Homo sapiens: one gene and its partner. The protein of the gene in region 1 interacts with the protein of each later gene in a biochemical or structural test. Each region holds a gene or a part of one and is shown in the gene's direction. Other genes may lie near its edges.

Region 1 (10,529 bases):
TCCATCCTGGATTCTCCTATAGGGAGCCAAGTACACATGATAGCCCCACAGGTCTTGGTCACAATACCTATCATCTGGGGGCCAATCAAGGAAAACTGTCAACATGAATATATGAAGCTCTTATCAATGAATAATACCAATTCCTGGCTAGATCGGGATTACATTTGCCTGCATACAACTTGGGAATTCAAAATAACAATGATTTATACACACAGTTTATTTCTCTCATGTAAAAGAAGCTTACACAGGGACATTATCTTAGTTCATGGCTTCTATCTTCAAGGTCACTTGGCATTCAAAACTGGATGCTAGAATTCCAGCTATCCTGACCATACTCCAAGAAGCAGAGAAGAGGCAGCTTTTATTTTTTTTTTTTTTTTGAGATGGAGGCTCGCTCCTGTCGTGCAGGCTGGAGTGCAGTGGCAACATCTCAGCTCACTGCAAACCTCCACCTCCTGGGTTCAAGCAGTTCTCCCTCCTCAGCCTCCTGAGTAGCTGGGATTACAGGCATGCGGCACGGCCATGCCCGGCTAATTTTTGTATGTTTAGTAGAGACGGGGTTTTGCCATGTTGGCCAGGCTGGTCTTGAACTCTCGACCTCAGGTGATCCACTGCCTTGGCCTCCCAAAGTGCTAGGATTACAGGCGTGAGCCACTGCGCCTGGCTAGAGGTAGCCTCTTTAGAGAGCTTTTCTGGAAGCGTCCACTCACATCTTATTGGCCAGACTTAGTCCTGTGGCCAGCTGTCATCTTTGAGCTGGGCATACTGCTGTTCCTCACAAAACAGGCCTTGAAACTATGGGAGATGGGAGAACAGCCATTGGGGAGCACAGTAGCCACCTCTCTCACTTCCAACTTATGCCTGACCCTGCTAGATGCTACACTTTGCCTGCTCACAGGTACATCCTAGTTCTCAAGGATCCCACATATATATACCATTTCTCTTCTTGAAAAGTATGGAAGGATAAAGAAGGTAGAGTTCGACAAGACAGAGCCTGGGCTTCCTAAGGCCATTTAGTCTGGGGACAAATGGTGAACTTGCAGTGGTGAGGTAGATAAATCAGTTTCCAAGTGGGCTTTCTCCCAGATGCCAGAGACCCTGGCTGTCCCTGTTTCATCATGCATTCCATCAACAAATGATTTACTTAGGAAAAAATATGGGGCACAAGTGCTACCCTCCCTCACTCGTTCCCTCATGGTGGCTCCCTTCTCGGCTAAGCTGGAACATGACCTCAGAATCCTCAACACAACGTCCCTGGCAGTTACTCTGGTCCAAAAGACTTGACACTACTACTTAAAACTATTAGCCATCCTTATTTCTTGTGGGAATTTTTATTTGGACGCACAATTTCTGGGTAGTTTCTAATTTCATATAAATATATTTCTCATGGTGGAATTTTAGGTATATGCCCAGGCGATAAATGTAGGTATTTATAGGCGGCAGGCTTTGCATTTCTCAGATTTCACCACTCAGTGGCTGTAATCACTCTCATTGCTGGAAACTTGTTCTTGTGATTGTTTAACTTACTGGACTGTGAGTTTCTCCAGAATGGAAACTATAATCCACTTTCGTATCCTCAAGGTGCCTGGCTCAGTATACTCTCAAAAATGTTATCCAGAAATGAGTCACCTGACTTGATCAAGGTCAAGTGGCTATCAAAGTAAATACTTCCCCTGTAGCTGGTTACACTGTGGACTGCCTACTACCAAGGACAAAAGGCAGGCCTCATTTGGAGAGGAGGTCGGTGACAGGAGGAGCATCAGTAGCACAACACACAGAATGTCTTGGTTATTTCACAACTGCCTTATAAATGCTCGAGTAACCGTCATGAGAAACTGACTACCAGGTGAAAGGGCAGCCATACTCTGAGGAGACACTACAGATTTTCCTTTCCACAAAAGGTTCAGGTCCTGGGCTAACTTGGCTCAGTGTTTTCTGTGTTCCAGAAGGTGACTCAGGGAGTTGTGCAAATGACTGACTCATATTTCATGGATACGAGTATGGCTGATGTAAGACTGCAGTTATCTCCTCCTGATTCAATTAAGGTAGACTATTCTTGATTGTTTTTATCAGTAGATCTATAAATTATACAAGTTGATACTAATATTGCTTATGTTTTAAATAGTGTGGTTCCACAGAAAATTTTGTTTTTTCTGTGAGAAACAAAGCTACTATTGCTAAAAAAGTGTCAAGAGCACTGACTTAGCTATAGTTCATCTGAGTTTTTTTTGAGACGGAGTCTTGCTCTGTCACCCAGGCTGGAGTGCAGTGGCACGATCTCGGCTCACTGCAACCTCCACCTCCCGGGTTCACACCATTCTCCTGCCTCAGCCTCCCGAGCAGCTGGAGCTATAGGCGCCCACCACCACGCCTGGCTAATTTTTTGTATTTTTAATAGAGACAGGGTTTCACTGTGTTAGCCAGGATGGTCTTGATCTCCTGACCTCGTGATCCACTCACCTCAGCCTCCCAAACTGCTGGGATTACAGGTGTGAACCACCGCGCCCGGCCCACCTGAGTTTTATATTTACCTGGTTACAGTGACCAAATTCTTCAACAGTGATCATGGAGAAAGATGAGACAAAATAATTCCCAAATGATTCTTTCTGCTCAAAGACCAGGGTGGGTATGAGTAGATCCAGGTCAATTTTTTTTTTCTTTTAAGAGACAGGGTCTCACTCTGTCACCTAGGCTGGGGTACAGTGGTACAATCATAGCTCACTGCAGCCTCCTACTCCCAGACTCAAGCCATCTTCCTAATCCTCCTCAAGCTTGAGGACAGGCCTTGTTACAATGCTCAGTGTGTACCTCTCCCCTTCTCCACTCCCCTTGTCCACATTCTGGGCTAGATCCACACTCTATTGAGGAACTGTCTCTGTATTTTGATTCCCGAGTGACACAGTGTTGGAGATCCTGTGGCTAGATACACAGGTTATTTCTGCATATGGCTACTCCTCAACCTTGTTGCCTGTCTTACTCTGGTCTGAGAGCTGAACCCCACAGAAATAACAAGGCTCCCCTCATCCCTTTCTCTGAAAGATTAGTACTAGTCCTAAGTGGTTAGCTCCCAGCTTCCTTTAGGACAGAAAAAAGAGAAGGAGAGAAGTGACACTTGTTTTTTTACTCACAAAGTCTTGGAGATAGGAGGTAGGAGGTTGGGGTGGATGTAGCTTGGACTTTGGAATTAGAACCAGGTTCAAATCCCCAATTAGGACATTTCTCAGTATTTTGATCTTAGATAGGTTTACTTATCAAAGTGTCTATTTATAAAATGGGGTATAACTTAATCAGATTTAGATGTAAGAAATAGTATAGTGCATGGCAGCTAGCAGGCTTTCAACGAACGACATCTCTCATTACTATCATTTTGACATCACATTTATCTGCTCAGAGTTGGTTACTGTTCTGCAATTTTTCCCAAAGTGTCACTGTGTGTCAGGCAGGGAGTATCTGCCTGGAGGAGTTTGAAGTATGCATGTAGGGTGGATGAGTTGTGGGGGTCGGCACCCAGGTAAATCACTAGCGAGGCTTTAGTACCCGTCTTTTCTCTCCAGGATTCTTGACCAAAAGTTACACTCTAAATTAAAGTCCAAACAGGTACATACCTAAGGGGAATATGGTGGAAATGTCAAAGAGGAGATAGGGAAAGAGGGGGAGGGGGGCGGGGCACAAAAATCCTGGCAGACCAGAGGCTGTACCACCCTTTGTTAAGGGTATGTGGCTACACTGATCTCTCATCCTCCAGATGCTCTTCCCAGTTAACACTGCCCAGTGACCTTCTTGGACAGGAAGCATGCAGCCAGCCATGCTGTCACCTTAGTGCCACTGTCTCTTTCTCCTCTTAAGCCCTTCAAACCATAATTTGAATGTAAATGTTATACATTTTATAATGAAATAAAAATAGCTTAATGCATCTGAGTAGATATGCCACACACCTATGGTCCAATGACTGGATGCTGACTTTCATATGTGGCCCAAATTACAAAGCAGCAATCAGAACAGACAACAACAGACAACAAGGGAACTTCTCTCCCACGGGTTCAGCAATCTGACCCAAACTCCATAGCCCCAGACAATCTGAATACACACATGCAAGTGTAAATATGCCCCAGTTTTCCCAGGAAGCAGGAAAATCTACACAGCCTCAATGAAGAGCACTATTTTGGACTGTTGTTGTCTACCCACCCTCTCCAGGGCTTTAATTCTTTAGAACTTCCCTTTTACACTTCTTTTCTCATCTGGTCAGCATTACCACTTTGCAGCCACTTATTTTCCATGGACATCTGCCACTTATCCTAACAAATAGCATTAATACAGTTGAGAGCATGGAGCGTTTAAAATATGGACTAATAAATGTATAAACAGTACTTTGAGAGGGAGGGAAAGCACAGGTTAAAAAATGGCTAGATGTAGAGAATTAAATGAAATGTTTATAAAGCCGTTCACACGATGTCCACACATTGCTGATGCTAGATAAATATCAAGTCCCTTATTCCTTCTCTTACCTTTTAGTAACTGGATTTGTCACGAACAGGTACTGAGGTCTGCATAAATCAAGGCATGATTTCATCTCTGGGCCTCAGTTTCCTCATATATAAAATTAAGACAGTTGTACTATTGTACTAGTTTTTTTTTCAAGAACTAGTTCAAAAACATTCCCAGCTCCCACCCCCACCCCCCCACCCCACAAGACTCTCCTCAAGACTCCTTCAGTAAATATTTGGAAAAAGGGTGGGAAGTTTGTTTCTGCCACCTTATATTCTTCCCAATAAAGGCAAGAAAAGTCAGGGATGGCTGGCATTGTGGGCGTCGGGAGGGAATGCGAACCAACATTTACTCTACTTCTCTCCCAGCCAGGCATGTTCACATACCTTGATCTTAGTCAACTGGCCTAAGTTAACTTGTTCCCAACATGACAAAACCCGATGGCATTCTAAAAGCAAAGCAAAGCAAAGCAAGGGCAGTCGATGAGTTGTGTTAACTTAGTTTTCTATCTCATGTTAACCTCCAAGGAACTCAAAACAACTCCACAGCGAATTCAATATTAAAATAGCTCTGGGACCCCAAGATTTATTTCACAGCTTAAAGCAAGGTCACTATCAAGTCCTCGGCAAAGCTCAAAATACAATAGAAAACTCCCAAATCAAGCCCCAGCTTATTTAAATGCTTAGAAAAAAAAAATAGCCAGGTGCCGTGGCTCATGCCCGTAATCCCATGGGAGGAGTCCAGACGGGAGGATTCCTTGAAGACAGGAGTTCGATACCAGCCCGGGTTACGAAGCGAGATCCCATCTCTACAAAAAGTTAACACACACACACACACACATTCACCACCTTAGCCTGGCTTAGTGGCGGGCGCCCGTGTTACAAAGGGAGATCCCATCTCTACAAAAAGTTAACACACATACACACCCTACCTTAGCCTGGCGTAGTGGCGGGAGCCTGTAGTCCTCGCTACTTTGGAGACACACACACACACACACACCCGTAGTCCTCGCTACTTTGGAGACACACACACACACACACACACACACACCTTAGCCAGGCGTGGTGGCGCGCGCCTGTAGTACCGGCTACTTTGGAGGCTGAGGCGGGAGAATCGCTTCAGCCTAGGAGTTCGAGGCTGCAGTGAGCCGAGATTGCGCCACTGCCCTCCAGCCTGGGCGACAGAGCGAAATCATACCTCTAAAAAAATAAATTAGAAAAATAAAAAGACAAAAAGAGCCAGCCCGGTTTCGGAGAGGCAGGTGCAGCCTCAGCGCCCTGGGCCTGCGTCCCCGACCGGGCCCTGGCTGCGCTCCCGCCCGCTGCGGGCCCCGGGGACGCACCTCGCATCCCGCGCTGGGCCCCGTTCCGTCCAGCCCGGGGGAGTGGAGGAGGCAGAGGCCGGGTGGGGAAGGGCCTCCAGAAACCGAGCTCCCGACGACGTCTCCCGCGACCCCAGTGCCCGAGAGAGGAGCGGCCCCCGGGAGCGATCCCACAACCGCGCGGGGCTGCGCCGCCCCGAACCTCCCCGCGGCCGCCGATCTGCTTCCAGGGCAGAGGGAAGGGGCGGTGACGGGGCGGGGCGGGGGCTGCGGCGAGGGCGGGCGCCGCTGGCGAGGGAGGGCCGCCAGCATCCTCCCTGGCCGCGCCGCACCGCGCCGCGAGGAGTCCGGGGGCTGCGCCCACGCCCGCTGCCCGCCCGCTCGTCGGCTAGTCCCGCCGTCCGGCGCGGACACGCGTGCCCCCGGCTTGAACCGGAACCTCTTGCCGAGGCGGCCGCCGTCGCCGCAGCCGCCGGGGAAGCGGACACCAACTGGGGAAGCGCGGGGGGGAGGCGGCCTGCGCGGCGCCGCCCGCCATGGCCGCGGCGGGGTGAGGTAGGCGCGGCGGCCGCAGTCGCGCGGACCCGAGCGCTCCTCCGCCGCGGATAGGCCGGCCGAGGGGGAGCCGGGGCCGTCGCCCGCTCGTCGCCGCCGCCGCCGCCGCCGCCCATGGCGAGGCCCCGCCGCCGCCGCCGCTGCTGACCCGGCGGCCGGCCGCCGTTCCGCCCCCTCCCGTGGCGGCGAGCGGGCGGGCCTCCCCACACGCCCCCGCCGCCCGCGCCCCGCGTCCACCCGCGCCCCGCTCCCGGGGACTGGGAGAACAGGATAGCAGCAGGAGTCGGGGGGCCGCCGAAGATGGGGAACACTACCTCGTGCTGCGTGTCGTCCAGTCCCAAGCTCCGGAGGAATGCCCACTCCCGGCTGGAGTCCTACCGGCCAGACACGGACCTGAGCCGCGAGGACACGGGCTGCAACCTGCAGCACATCAGCGACCGGGAGAACATAGACGGTGAGTGCGGCCCGCCGAGCCCCCTACCCGCCCCCGCGGCAACAGTCGCACAGCCAACGTCGGGGCGGCCCGGCTGCTCTTGCTTGCCCAGCCGGTCTCGGCGACCCGTGCATAACCGGGGCTTCGCCCGCGCAGCCTAGGCGCCCGGGGCCCCGCAGCCTCTGGGCGTACCCCTCGCTGGTTACCCCCAAGTGAGCGGCCGCGGAAACTTTGCAGGCCCGCGGCATCGAGCACGGCGGGCCTAGGGCGGGTGTGTGCGCGTGGGTCGCGAGGTGACAGGAGCCGGCCCTCGTCCTTAATGGAGCGGCCAGAGCTGGGTGGGGGCGGCCCGGGAGCTCGGGGTTCCCGGCACTACCTGAATGCAGCCCGAAGCCAAGTTGTGCACGCGTTTGTCCTATAAAAGCGAAGTGAGTGGATTCCCATTTTGGAATCCCGGTGTCTCCAACCTCGAGTTGGAGAACCATGTTGAGTCAGTTCCCCGGAACCTTACAAATGGACTCCACTTCCCCCGTTCCCATTCTACCGTTTTTTTTAAAAAATGATTTTTTTGAGTGGCGGTTCCAGGATTAGTCAAATAGCTTCTCCCGAGAATGCTCTTTAAAAGATTGTCAGACACCTTTGGGTTAAGTCTCAGTTTTTGCATGGGCCCGAATTGCAGTCCTATGAATTTCTGATTTATTCAGGTGACTTTTGGTTGGTCTGGAGTTTGCAAAAAGAAAAAAAGCTAAGACTAATTACTGCACGCAGTAATGTTTTATTTATTTTATTGGTTTGGCAACATATTTATTAGCACTGTTGCTCAGTGATAACGACAGAGGGATATTTATGCATCATGCTTAAAATATAGTTTATAGAATTTTCAACTGAAAAGATTTGAAATTGGAAGTATCTTTTTATGACAAGGTGATTTTTTTAACCCAAACATCTTCTCATAGTTAATCTGGTTGAACTAATATGAAGAAATTTTTGTGTGAATGAATGAACACAACTTCATAATTCGTTCCTGTCCACTTTAGGATGGAAGATTCTCTCCACTGTGGAAAGGCCACATTTAAACTTTGCTAAAGGAAAGATTTTTCTCGTTTGTCTTCGTGTAATTTCTTCTAAATGGTAGTTTAATCTTTTTAGGAGAGCATCTTTATTAAATGAGTGCCATGTATAAAGGGAGTAACACAACGTCTGGTTTCTAGTACGCGCTTAGTAAATTATGGTTCCATATGACGTGTCTAGTGTTGTTATTTTAGATTTCCATTATTTTAAACATACGCTTAGATGTCTTTGAACTACAGCCATACTTTCTTCTTAAATTTATGCATTTAAAGGCATCTAGAAGGATGAAGGCCAGATCGGTCTTGATCACTTTCACAGCCTCTAGCACCTGAAAGAAAAGTCTAGCATATAATAAACAGTAAGTATTGTACTTTAAAGGGAGGAATAAATGAATGAGTTTATTACAGAAAGCCATTACCCAGTCCTATACTATGTTGACAGGCGAAAACATTTGGAAATAATGTCTTCTTTATGATGTGCAGTAAATTTCCTTTTTATGTTGTGCAGTATCTAGCGGAGGCTTTGTTTTGAATGATGGATCAAAAAAGAAAAAAAAGAAGATTTACATTTCTTAGAGCCAGGCTGCATACAGTTATTATAGACTATTGTAAGGAAATAAGGTGGAAAAAATAAGTGTAACCAGGTATTTGGCACTAAGGCTCAGTACAATTTTGCCAGAGTACAGTGAAATGATATTGTGTGTTCTTTCATTTCAAAGAAATCTTAAGTTTCAGTCATCAGGAATTTTTGAGAGAATGTTTGGAAGACTCTTTTGCAGATTCAGGATAGTTTGAGAGAGTATAGGGCAGGTTTCCAATCTAGGCTGTGGAGTGCCCTCTCATCCCAGATCCCAGTTCATATGATTATGCTAGTTTAAACCCCGAAATATTAATTCACCTTCTGTCTCTCAAATTCAATAAATAATACTTCTAGCATTGACCCAGCCAGCAGTTCTCAACATTGGTTTCAGTTAAACCAGAAATCTAGTACTGGACATTGCCATTAATATGTTTAAATCTCTCCAAGGTGATTCTGAGATGCAGGTAGGCCTGAGAATTGCTGGCTGGGCAAATCTTGGAAGTGTTACCTGCCGTTCAGGGACATTTTTGGTAGAAATTCATTATTAGAGGCTGAGAGAAGAGAACAGGTTTTAATTAAATAGAGTGTATATATATACACACTATATACATCTATATGTCTGTATTTGCTCATCTATATCTGTATGTATTTGAACTGAGTTATATTGATTGTTAGGTTATTAGTAAACATTTTAAAACTACATTTTAAGAATCATTGACTCTAGTATATATCAAAAGCTGAAGTACTCAAATACCATATTTTTTATGTCCTGAAAAACATCCCACCCAGCTGGTTTAGAAAGGTTTGAAGTTCATGGGTCTTCTATGATAGGTTAGTGTCTTTAAATCACAGAGATATGACATATGTATCCATGCTTTCTTCCCTTTGTCACCAGGCACATGAAGGGGTAATACTTGTCCTGTAGAATTTCAGTAATTTTAGTGTCTGGGAACTTAGGTGTCTATGGTGCTTAATGGCAACTTAATGTGTCTTTTTGCTCAGTTTATCTTAGTGTTAGGTTATTCATGTTTTTGAAATTGATATTGGACTCATGCTTTCCAGGTATTATTTCTTATAAAATCATTCAGAGATTGAGAAAAAACAGCAACACATAACAACAATAGTAATCTTCAGAACAATTCTTTAGGAAAATAAAAAAATGATAGTAATAATTGCAGCCTATGTATTACTTACTCTGTAGCAGCTGTCACCAGCTGCCGCTCTAAGTACTTGGATTCCATTCATTTACTTAGAACTCACAGTAACCCTATGGGTAATATTACCCTTACTTTAAGACAAAGAAATGAGTCACTGAGAGGAGAAATGACTTGTCCAAAGTCACACAGCCAATACATGGCAAATGGAAACTTTCCATTGTTGCTTGACTTAGCCATCAAACGTTAGCTAGTCTGGGGTTGCCTTCTGGGATAGGGTGTCTTGTCATTGCAGTCATATCCATACTTTCTCAAGGATAAACTTCTTCTGTCTGCAGCAGTTATTCAGTCCAGACTTCCAGGATTAGATTATTTCTGTGGGAGGAGAAAGGGAGGGAGGGACTAAAGAGAATTTAAAATGTGAGGAGACCAAATAAATCAGGATACTTGTAACAGCTGTACCATAGTGTCCTTGTAGGGTTTTACCTTAAAATGGTTGATGGCAACTTCATTCTTTTTTTTTTTTTTTTTTGAGATGGAGTTTTGCTCTGTCACCCAGGCTGGAGTGCAGTGGCATAATCTTGGTTCACTGCAACCTCCACCTCCCGGGTTCAAGCAGTTCTCCTGCCTCAGCGTCCCAAGTAGCTGGGATTACAGGCATGCGCCACCACGCCTGGCTAATTTTGTATTTTTAGTAGAGATGGGGTTTCTCCATATTTGTTATACTGGTCTCGAACTCCTGACCTCAAGTGATCTGCCCGCCTCAGTCTCCCAAAGTGCTGGGATTACAGGGGTGAGCCACTGCTCCTGGCCCACTCTTTTCATTTTTATAGTTTACCTGTCATCCTTGACAACTCACTTTCTCCCTCGTCCTGTATCATATCTGGTAGGAAAATGTGGCTCTCTGCCCTCAGAATATATCAGACTTTGA
Region 2 (10,266 bases), on another chromosome or scaffold:
ATTACATAAGAGTGTGAATACTTAGAAGTGGGTGTTATTGGGAGCCATGTTAGAGACTGCCTACCACTGTATTTTAAAATGGTGAATTACAGATTTGTGAATGTTAAGCCAACCTTGCATTCGTGGGATTAGTGTGACATTGTCATGGTTTACTATCTTCTTTATATATTGTTGCATTCAATTTGTTGAAGATGTACCAGTAATTTTTTGCATCTGTGTTCATGAGAGAGATTGATCTGTAGTTTCCTTACAATGTTCTTGTGTGGCTTTGGTATTGGAATGACACTGGCCTTATAAAATGAATTGGGAAGTATATCCTCTTCATCAGTATTTTGAAAGGGTTTCTGTACAATTGAAGTCATTTCTTCCTTTAATGTTTGTTTTAACTTCACCAGTGGTGCCACCTGGCCCTGGCATTATCTTTGTGGTAATGTTTTTGACCACAAATTCAATTCCTGTCATAGACACAGGCCTATTCATGTTATCTATTTTTTTTTTTAACTGAGTGAGCTTTGGTAGTTTTTGTCTTTCAAATAATTGGTTTCATCTAAGTTGTGGAATTTATTGGCACAATGTTGTTTGTAGTATTTGTAGAACATCTGTAGTGATATCACTGCTCCCATTCCTGATAGTAATATTGGCGATGTATATTTTCTACTTTTTTTTCCCCTTATCTGTCTGGCTAGATGTTCATCATTTAAAAAAAACTTCTCTGAAAACCAGCTTTTGGTTTTATTGATTTTTCTTTATTGTTTTCTGTTTTCTATTTTATTTATATCCACTTTCTTATTTATTATTTCACTCTTCTTATCTTGGTTTTTATTTGCTTTATTTATTTATTTTTTTTTTAGTATTTTAAGGTGGAAGCTGAGGTTATTGCTTTGAGACTTTTCTTCTTTTCTCTAGTCATTTAGTGTTACAAATTTTCCTACAGCTAAAGTACTACTTTAGCTGAATCTCACCATTTTCGTATTTTGTGTTTTCATTTTTATTTAGTCCAAGATGCTTTCTAATTGCCTTTCTCTATTAATTTAGTCATCAACTATTTTCTGTCATCCTTATCTTTTAGTTTCTATTTTAAGTAATTTGATTTCAACGTGCCCTTACATTTTTTTTTCTTTCAAATTTTCTGTGTTTGCAGTTCATTGACTTCTCAGGCCCATGTATTTATAATTTAATTGCTTTAGTGATGTGGGTGGTTTCTTATTTACTGCCTTCATGTCCTTAAGAAGAGCACAAAAACCCTTAAAAATATTGCATGCTCCAACATACTTGTAATTCATTTTTACTTTTTGATCATGACTAGAGGACTCTGCCTTGAGTCTTTTAAAAATATCTTCAGCTGTTTTCTCACATGCTAAAAAGTATGATAATATTTTTCTCATTTGACTTAGTTAGAATTCAGCCTGTGCTTAGTAGTTGAGACATACTCATAGGGTTGATGTTTAATGATTAAAAACTTTTTGTTTCAAAAACTTGAAATGGCTTATTTTAATTATACATGCTTTTCTACTTTAGTGGTTTTTAAAACATTACATATGTTGGAATATTTATTATAAAATTCACACAAGAGTGTACCAAAAATTGCTAATCTTGCCCGTTCAATTCCACATGTCTGGAGATATCTGATGTTAATAGTTTGGTGGTGTGTTTTCCTGTATACTTTTCACCATGCTCATACACTCACAAATATCTATATCTATGCATCTGTGTCTGTATTTATATCTGTATCTGTCTATATCTATCCATATACATAGCCGCATTTATACCCCACATGGAGTCATTCTATACATATTAGCTCTGTGTATCTGTGGGTTCTGTATGCACATACTCAACCAACCACGGACCCAAAGTGTGTATTCAAAAACTTCGTATTTTTACCTTAACAGTGTGGGCTTTTCATAAATATCTTCGGTTTTTCTGCTTTTGATAGCATATAGGGATGTGGGAACTTTTTATAAGAAGAAAAGCATTCTAAAAACAATTTTATTTAGAGTTATATTTTCTTTAGAGAGAACAATTAAATTAGTTAGCTTTACAGACAAGCCAGAGGCCATCAAATTATTGAATAAAGACAACAAAGTCTCCAGAGTATCGGGAGAATGACAGGCTTAGAACTAAAGTAAAAAGCAAGGAGCAAAAATCACAGAGACTGAAATAAAATGAGAGGGTGGGGAAGGCTGGGTGAGAAGAGAATGGGTGAAGAAGGAAGAAGAAGGGAAGGAGGTGGAGGTCTAGTGGAATAATGTAAACCAAATTTTGAAATGAATGCTTTTTGGTGTTTTTCTTTTACAATGTTATTTCTTTTTATCCATTAGCTTTGAAATAAAGGAAACCCCCACCATTGTCCTCAGTTCTTCAGTATCTCTAACCATTAGCTCCATTCATTCCAATTTGGAGATGAAATCAAGATGGGGACAGATTTTAAGCATACATATTCATGCATAAAACTTTTAAACAACATAATGCCCTTTCCTTCTCTAGCCTAGGTTAGCTGCTTACACGATGACCCATCAGTTAATGTCCATCTGATTTGCCTATTTTTTGTTTTTTAAATTAAGGCTAGTTACCCAACCTCTTAATGATTCAGAAATAAACCACTTCCAGTCAGATGGTAAAACGTGTGACAGAGTTCAAGAATCATGTTAGGGTACTACTAGCAGCCTGGGCCTTAAGTTTCTCATTTTAGAGGTAGATTTTTTAGTGTAAGCTCTAGTGTGAGATCTAAGTGTAAACACAATGATTGTGAGGATTTTTTTGTACTGTAATTTATGCTGATGCAGCTTTTAGAATGTGGGCTTTTTGGGTATTTCCTGAAACTGAAATTGGCATGCTTTCTAGAGTTATATATTGGCATGTTTAGTGATATTAAAGTTGCAGTGAAGAGTTCTGAATTTAATTTCTTCTTTTCTCAGATATGTGTCACAAAGATGTCTACACGGAACTGCCAGGGAATGGACTCAGTGATCAAACCCCTGGACACAATTCCTGAGGATAAAAAAGTCAGAGTTCAGAGGACACAGAGCACTTTTGACCCATTTGAGAAACCAGCTAATCAAGTAAAGAGGGTGCATTCTGAGAACAATGCTTGCATTAACTTTAAGACCTCCTCCACTGGCAAAGAGTCACCTAAAGTTAGGCGGCACTCCAGCCCCAGCTCGGTAAGTGCAGTCTTTTTGTTTATCACTGGGTAAACAGAAGGAATAGCCTTCTTATGATAGCATGCGGTGCTGGAAGACAGCAGGAAACTTTATCAGTGCCTTATTATGCATTCTCTCCCAGGGTGGTTGAATGTTTTGGAAGAGAGAGAGCAAACTATATATGGACTCCTTATTTATAAGCACTAAGCAAGCAAATGAATGAAATGATTCAACTTATTTTTGGAAAAATCATTTTTCCCCCTTAATTGTTTCTAGTTAGAGGAATTTATAATTAAAAGTCTTTTGTATTTCAAACCCTTGGAGAGGTTATTGAACTTTACTGTGTAGGCAGTAAGGATAGTTTTGAAATTAGCAAATTCACAAGGAATTTCATTGCAGAATAAATATCAAAATTTGTTCACTTGCGTTAATCCAGTTTTTTTTGGGGGGGTACTCCACCAGTCTTTCTCATGTGACTCTGTAAAGTGACAAGTTGAAGTTCTTTTCCAGGACAAAGCCCTGTACTGAATGGAAAATGCTGGAGTAGAAATCTGTGTAGGGTAGATTCAGTAGGACCAAAGGAAAGAAGAGAATGTCCAGAAAGAAGTGTTAGAGGGAAACAGACTTTAGATATAACTAGTGATTTACAAGTTAGAAAGGAACACACCAAGAGAGAATATTCTCTGTTATATTTCTATTCTCAAATACATTTTTTCCTACTTTTTGGCTTAAATTAATATACATTATTTACAATTGTATGATAATGTAAATTTTGGTCAGGGAAACCACAAGTATGCTATGAATAAATTTCCTTCCTTGCACAACTTCTTCATTTTCTTAGTTGTCATTGTCTACTTTTCCTTCATTCAAATTAAGATAATTTTAAACACAATTTGAGGCCTGCAACTATATGACAAAACTGTAAAATGCCTCCAAAACAAATCAGATAATCTATCAGTTTTTCTCCCCCACTGAGATTGCCCTGGCAGTTCTTCATAGTCCTAATTTAATATAGATTGGTTAACCTCTAATCCTATAGTCATAAGGCGTCCTTTTCTGAGAATTTTTTCCTCCTTTTTTAATGTTAAATACCCATTCTCTGGGTTACATGTCTTTCTTGTTCTTGGTTTATTTCATTGTTTTAAAGTACATCCTCGCAGTAGCTTCTTGAGAAAGGGTGATGGGGGGTTTGTCATATGACTATGATTTTATCTGTCGTTGATTACTTGATTAATAATCTGGCCAAGTATGTGATTTTAGTTTAGAAAATAATTTTTTCTTAGACTTTTGAATACCTTGTTTTATTGTTTTCTAGGTGCCTAGATTGTATTGAAATCCCTAGACTATTCTGGTTTCCCAGTTCATCCTTTATCTGCTTTTTTGTTTGTGGAACTTTCTAGGACTTTCTTTTCATCCCTGGTGTCATCCTTTTTCTTGGTATCAATGGGTGTTTTCAATTTTTGAGTTAATTTCTTTCAGTTTCAAAAATTTTCTTATATGTTTATTTAATTTTTTGTAATCTTCTCTTTTACGATAACATTTTTATTAGTTGGATGTTGGCATTATTGGATTGATCTTCTAGTTACCTTTTCTTTTCCCTATTATTTTAAATCTTTTTTTTCCTACCTTCTGGGTTTTTTTAACTTTTAATTTTTAACCCTTCAATTGGATTTTTAATTATACTAATATTTATTTCCATGAACTCTTTCTTATTCTTTGAATGCTCTTTTAAAAAGTATCCTGTTCTATTTCAATGAATAACATATCACTTCATATGTTTCTGAGGATACAAAATGTAGCTTGGGGAATTTTTTTTCCTTTTACATATTCTCTGAATTATTTCTGGATTTCCTTTGAGTTTCTTGTTTCTGTTTATTTGTTTTGGTCTCTGCCTTACCTGTTGAGATTTTTGGTGGGTCTATGTCATGCCTCTTGGAGAGAAACTGTTGGCTGTCAGTTTATGTTATGAGTAATGTACTCAGAAGTTGATTGGAAGCTCTGTGCCTGGGTGGCTTGTCAGTTGGTTGGCTTCAGCATAGGGACTCTTGGTGAAGACCTAGTCGTTTTATTTAAGTACTCTCAAATGTCGCTGTCTCTTGATCTTGTTTTTGTTACTGGGTGTTTCTCACAAAATGGACTTACCCAATTTATTTTTTTTAGGACATATAAACCTAGCTGTCACTATTCTGAGATGATCAAGAAGGGACTGAGGACCCTTCAGTTCTCTATGCCAACTTTCTCATGATTTTTTTTTTTTTCATTCGGTATGACTCTTCAATCTGATATCCACTCTGCCTGGTATCCAAGCCCCAGTTGAATTCTCTGATTCAACCTCTTCAGAGAATAAATCTCTGGCGGGACTAGGAAGGGATAGGGGGCTGGCCGAGGGAGACTGGGGCAAAGACCTCCACCTTAAATTCACTCCAACTAATCATATCATTTGTAGCCCCAACTTGAACTTCAGCTTCCAGTTTGTGAGTATTTTTGGGATTCTGAAGTATGAATTGACTTATTTCTTACTGGCTTATGCCTTGGATCATGTAGGTATCAAGGTTTTTTTTTTTTTTTTTTTTTTTTTTTCCCCACTCATCCTAGGCAATGTGACTTCTCAACCATTTGTGTCCTGTCTTTACATTTTTATTTCTATCTCGTCTCTAGTGTTCTCTTTACTCATTTTGATTGCCCTTATGGGTTTTAATTTTAGTATTGTTTTAGTATGAATTGGTAAGGGGGAGAGATAAATACATGTTTTCAAGCCATCAAGTTTCACTGGAAGTTTTCACAGTTTCTCTATTGTATTTTTTAGTTTCTTTAGATCATCTTGGGCTTACCCTTTCCTGGTTCACCCTGGGATGACTTTTTTTAATATATATTAGGTCATTTATATTACTTTGTGTGGGAACTGCTTTGCTTTCTTTTTATTTTAGGAATTTTTGCTTCAATTCAATGTGCCCTGGAAAAATGTCTTTTCTCTTACCTTATCAAACTGGAAATGGCTTCGTTTTCTCTTTCAGCAGGATGCTATAATATCCTGTTTTTTTCTGAGTCCTTTCTGTTTGCTGCCCTTTTAAAAAATATATTTTTTCTTTTTTTAAAATTATACTTTAAGTTCTGGGGTACATGTGCAGAACATGCAGGTTTGTTACATAGGTATACACTTGCCATGGTGGATTGCTGCACTCGTCAACCTGTCATTTACATTAGATATTTCTCCTAATGCTATCCCTCCCCTAGCCCTGGTGTATGATGTTCCCCTCCCTGTGTCCATGTGTTCTCATTGTTTAACTCCCACTTATGAGTGAGAACATGTGGTGTTTGGTTTTCTGTTCTTCTCTTAGTTTGCTGAGAATGATGGTTTCCAGCTTCATCCATGTCCGCGCAGAGGACATGAACTCATCCTTTTTTATGGCTGCATAGTATTCCATGGTGTATATGTGCCACATTTTCTTAATTCAGTCTATCTTTGATGGGCATTTGGGTTGGTTTCAAGTCTTTGCTATTGTGAACTATGCTGCAGTAAACATACGTGTGCATGTGTCTTTATAGCAGAATGATTTACAATCCTTTGGGTATATACCCAGTAATGGGATTGCTGGGTCAAATGGTGTTTCTAGTTCTAGATCCTTGAGGAATTGCCACACTGTCTTCCACGATGATTGAACTAATTTACACTCCCACCAATAGTGTAAAAGCATTCCTATTTCTTCACAGCCTTTCCAGCATCTGTTGTTTCCTGATGTTTCAATGATCATCATTCTAACTGGCGTGAGATGGTATCTCATTGTGGTTTTGATTTGCATTTCTCTACTGACCAGTGATGATGAGCTTTTTTTCATGTTTGTTGGCTGCATAAATGTCTTCTTTTGAGAATTGTCTGTTCATATTCTTTGCCTACTTTTTGATGTTGTTTTCTTTTTTCTCTTGTAAATTTGTTTAAGTTCTTTGTAGATTCTGGATATTAGCCCTTTGTCAGATGGATAGATTATAAAAATTTTCTCCCATTCTGGAGTTTGCCTGTTCACTCTGATGATAGTTTCTTTTGCTGTGCAGGAGCTCTTTCGTTTAATTAGATCCCATTTGTCAATTTTGGCTTTTGTTGCCATTGCTTTTGGTGTTTTAGTCATGAAGTCTTTGCCCATGCCTGTGTCCTGAATGGTATTGCCAACGTTTTCTTCTAGGGTTTTTATGGTTTTAGGTCTTACATTTAAGTCTATAACCCATCTTGAGTTAATTTTGTATAAGGTGTAAGCAAGGGATCCAGTTTTGGCTTTTTACATATGGCTAGCCAGTTTTCCCAACACTATTTATTAAATAGGGAACCCTTTTCCTATTGCTTTGTTTTTGTCAGGTTTGTCAGAGATCAGATGGTTGTAGATGTGTGGTGTTATTTCTCAGGTCTCTGTTCTGTTCATTGGTCTATATATCTGTTTTTGTACCAGTACCATGCTGTTTTTGTTACTGTAGCCTTGTAGTATAGTTTGAAGTCAGGTAGTGTGATGCCTCCAGCTTTGTTCTTTTTGTTTAGGATTGTCTTGGCTATGCAGGCTCCATATGAAATTTAAAGTAGTTTTTTCCAGTTCTGTGAAGAAAGTCAATGATAGCTTGATGGGGATAGCATTGAATCTATAAATTACTTTAGGCAGTATGGCCATTTTCATGATATTGATTCTTCATATCCATGACCATGGAATGTTTTTCCATTTGTTTTTGTCCTCTTATTTCTTTCAGCAGTGGTTTGTAGTTCTTCTTGAAGAGGTCCTTCATATCCCTTGTAAGTTGGATTCCTAGGTATTTTATTCTCTTTGTAGCAATTGTGAATGGGAGTTCACTCATGATTTGGCTGTCTGTTTGTCTGTTATTGGTGTATAGGAATGCTTGTGATTTTTGCACATTGATTTTTTATCCTGAGACTTTGTTGAAGTTGCTTATCAGCTTAAGGAGATTTTGGGCTGAGATGATGGGGTTTTCTAAATATACAATCATGTCTCTGCAAACAGAGGCAATTTGACTTCCTGTTTTCCTAATTGAATACACTTTATTTCTTTCTCTTGCCTGATTGCCCTGGCCAGAACTTCCAATACTATGTTGAATAGGAGGGGTGAGAGAGGGCATCCTTGTCTTGTGCCGGTTTTCAAAGGGAATGCTTCCAGTTTTTGCTTATTCAGTATGATACTGGTTGTGGGTTTATCATAAATAGCTCTTATTATTTTGAGAAACATCCCATCAATACCTAGTTTCTTGAGAGTTTTTAGCATGAGGGGCTGTTGAATTTTGTCAAAGGCCCTTTCTGCATCTTTTGAGATAATCATGTGGTTTTTGTCCTTGGTTCCGTTTATGTGATGGATTACATTTATTGATTGGCTTATGTTCAACCAACCTTGCATTCCAGGGATGAAGCCGACTTGATCATGGTGGATAAGCTTTTTGATGGGCTGCTGGATTTGGTTTGCCAGTATTTTATTGAGAATTTTCTCATCCATGTTCATCAGGGATATTGGCTTGAAATTTTCTTTTTTTGTTGTGTCTCTGCCAGGCTTTGCTATCAGGATGATGCTGGCATCATAAAATGAGTTAGGGAGGATTCCCTCTTTTTCTGTTGTTTGGAATCGTTTCAGAAGGAATGGTACCAGCTCCCCTTTGTACCTCTGGTAGAATTCGGCTGTGAATCCTTCTGGTCCTGGACTTTTTTTGGTTGGTAGGCTATTAATTACTGCCTCAATTTCAGAACTTGTTACTGGTCTATTCAGGGATTCTACTTCTTCCTGGTTTAGTTTTAGGAGGGTGTATGTGTCCAGGAATTTATCCATTTCTTCTAGATTTTTTAGTTTATTTGCATAGAGGTATTTATAGTATTTTCTGATAGTAGTTTGTATTTCTGTGGGATTGGTGTTGATATCCCCCTAATCATTTTTTACTGTGTCTATTTGATTCTTCTCTCTTTTCTTCTTTATTAATCTGGCTAGAGGTCTATCTATTTTGTTGATCTTTCAAAAAACCAGCTCCTGTATTCAGTGATGTTTTGAAGAGTTTTTCCTGTCTCTATATCCTTCAGTTCTGCTCTCATCTTAGTTATTTCTTGTCTTCTGCTAGCTTTTGAATGTATTTGCTCTTCCTTCTCTAGTTCTTTTAATTTTGATGTTAGGGTGTCAATTTTAGATCTTTCCTGCTTTCTCTTGTGGGCATTTAGTGCTATAAATTTCCCTCTACACACTGCTTTAAATGTGTCCTGGAGATTCTGGTATGTTGTGTCTTTGTTCTCGTTGGTTTCAAAGAACATCTTTATTTCTGCCTTAATTTCGTTATTTACCCAGTAGTCATTCGGGAGCAGGTTGTTCCGTTTCCATGTACTTATGTGGTTTTGAGTGAGTTTCTTAATCCTGAGTTCTAATTTGATTGCACTGTGGTCTGAGAGACTATTATGATTTCCATTCTTTTGCATTTGCTGAGGAGTGTTTTACTTCCAGTTATGTGGTCAATTTTAGTGTATGTGTGATGTGGTGCTGAGAGGAATGTATATTCTGTTGATTTGGGGTGGAGAGTTCTGTAGATATCATTTAGGTCTGTTTGGTCCAGAGCTGAGTTCAAGTCCTAGATATTTTTGTTAATTTTCTGTCTAATTGATCTGTCTGATATTAAAGTTTCCTACTATTGTTTGGGAGTCTAAGTCTCTTTGTAGGTCTCTAAGAACTCGCTTTATGAATCAGGGTGCTCCTGTATTGGGTGCATATATATTTAGGATAGTTACCTCTTCTTGTTGCATTGATCCCTTTACCATTAGTAATGTCCTTCTTTGTTTCTTTTTAACTTTGTTGGTTTAAAGCCTGTTTTATCGAGTGCAACCCTTGCTTTTGTTGCTTTCCGTTTGGTTGGTAAATATTCCTCCATCCCTTTATTTTGAGTGTATGTGTGTCTTTGCACATGAGATGGGTCTCCTTAATACAGCACACTGATGGGTCTTGACTCTGTCCAATTTGCCAGTCTGTGTCTTTTAATTGGGGCATTTGACCTATTTACATTTTAGGTTATTGTATTGTTAGGTGTGAATTCGATCGTGTTATTATGATGCTAGCTGGTTATTTTGCCCATTAGTTGATGCAGTTTCTTCATAGCGTTGATGGTCTTTACA

The links.
Region 2: of the proteins of CCNY (region 1) and CDK14, one has a biochemical effect on the other in vitro, tested with the Homo sapiens proteins (one study listed by BioGRID).

Annotation. Positions count from the first base shown.
Region 1 is NC_000010.11:35,330,393-35,340,921, forward strand, and holds the start of CCNY (cyclin-Y), read left to right. Parts: upstream 1-6,116; 5' UTR 6,117-6,661; coding exon 6,662-6,815; intron 6,816-10,529. UniProt on the Homo sapiens protein: Positive regulatory subunit of the cyclin-dependent kinases CDK14/PFTK1 and CDK16.
Region 2 is NC_000007.14:90,723,652-90,733,917, forward strand, and holds part of CDK14 (cyclin-dependent kinase 14), read left to right. Parts: intron 1-2,915; coding exon 2,916-3,161; intron 3,162-10,266. UniProt on the Homo sapiens protein: Serine/threonine-protein kinase involved in the control of the eukaryotic cell cycle, whose activity is controlled by an associated cyclin.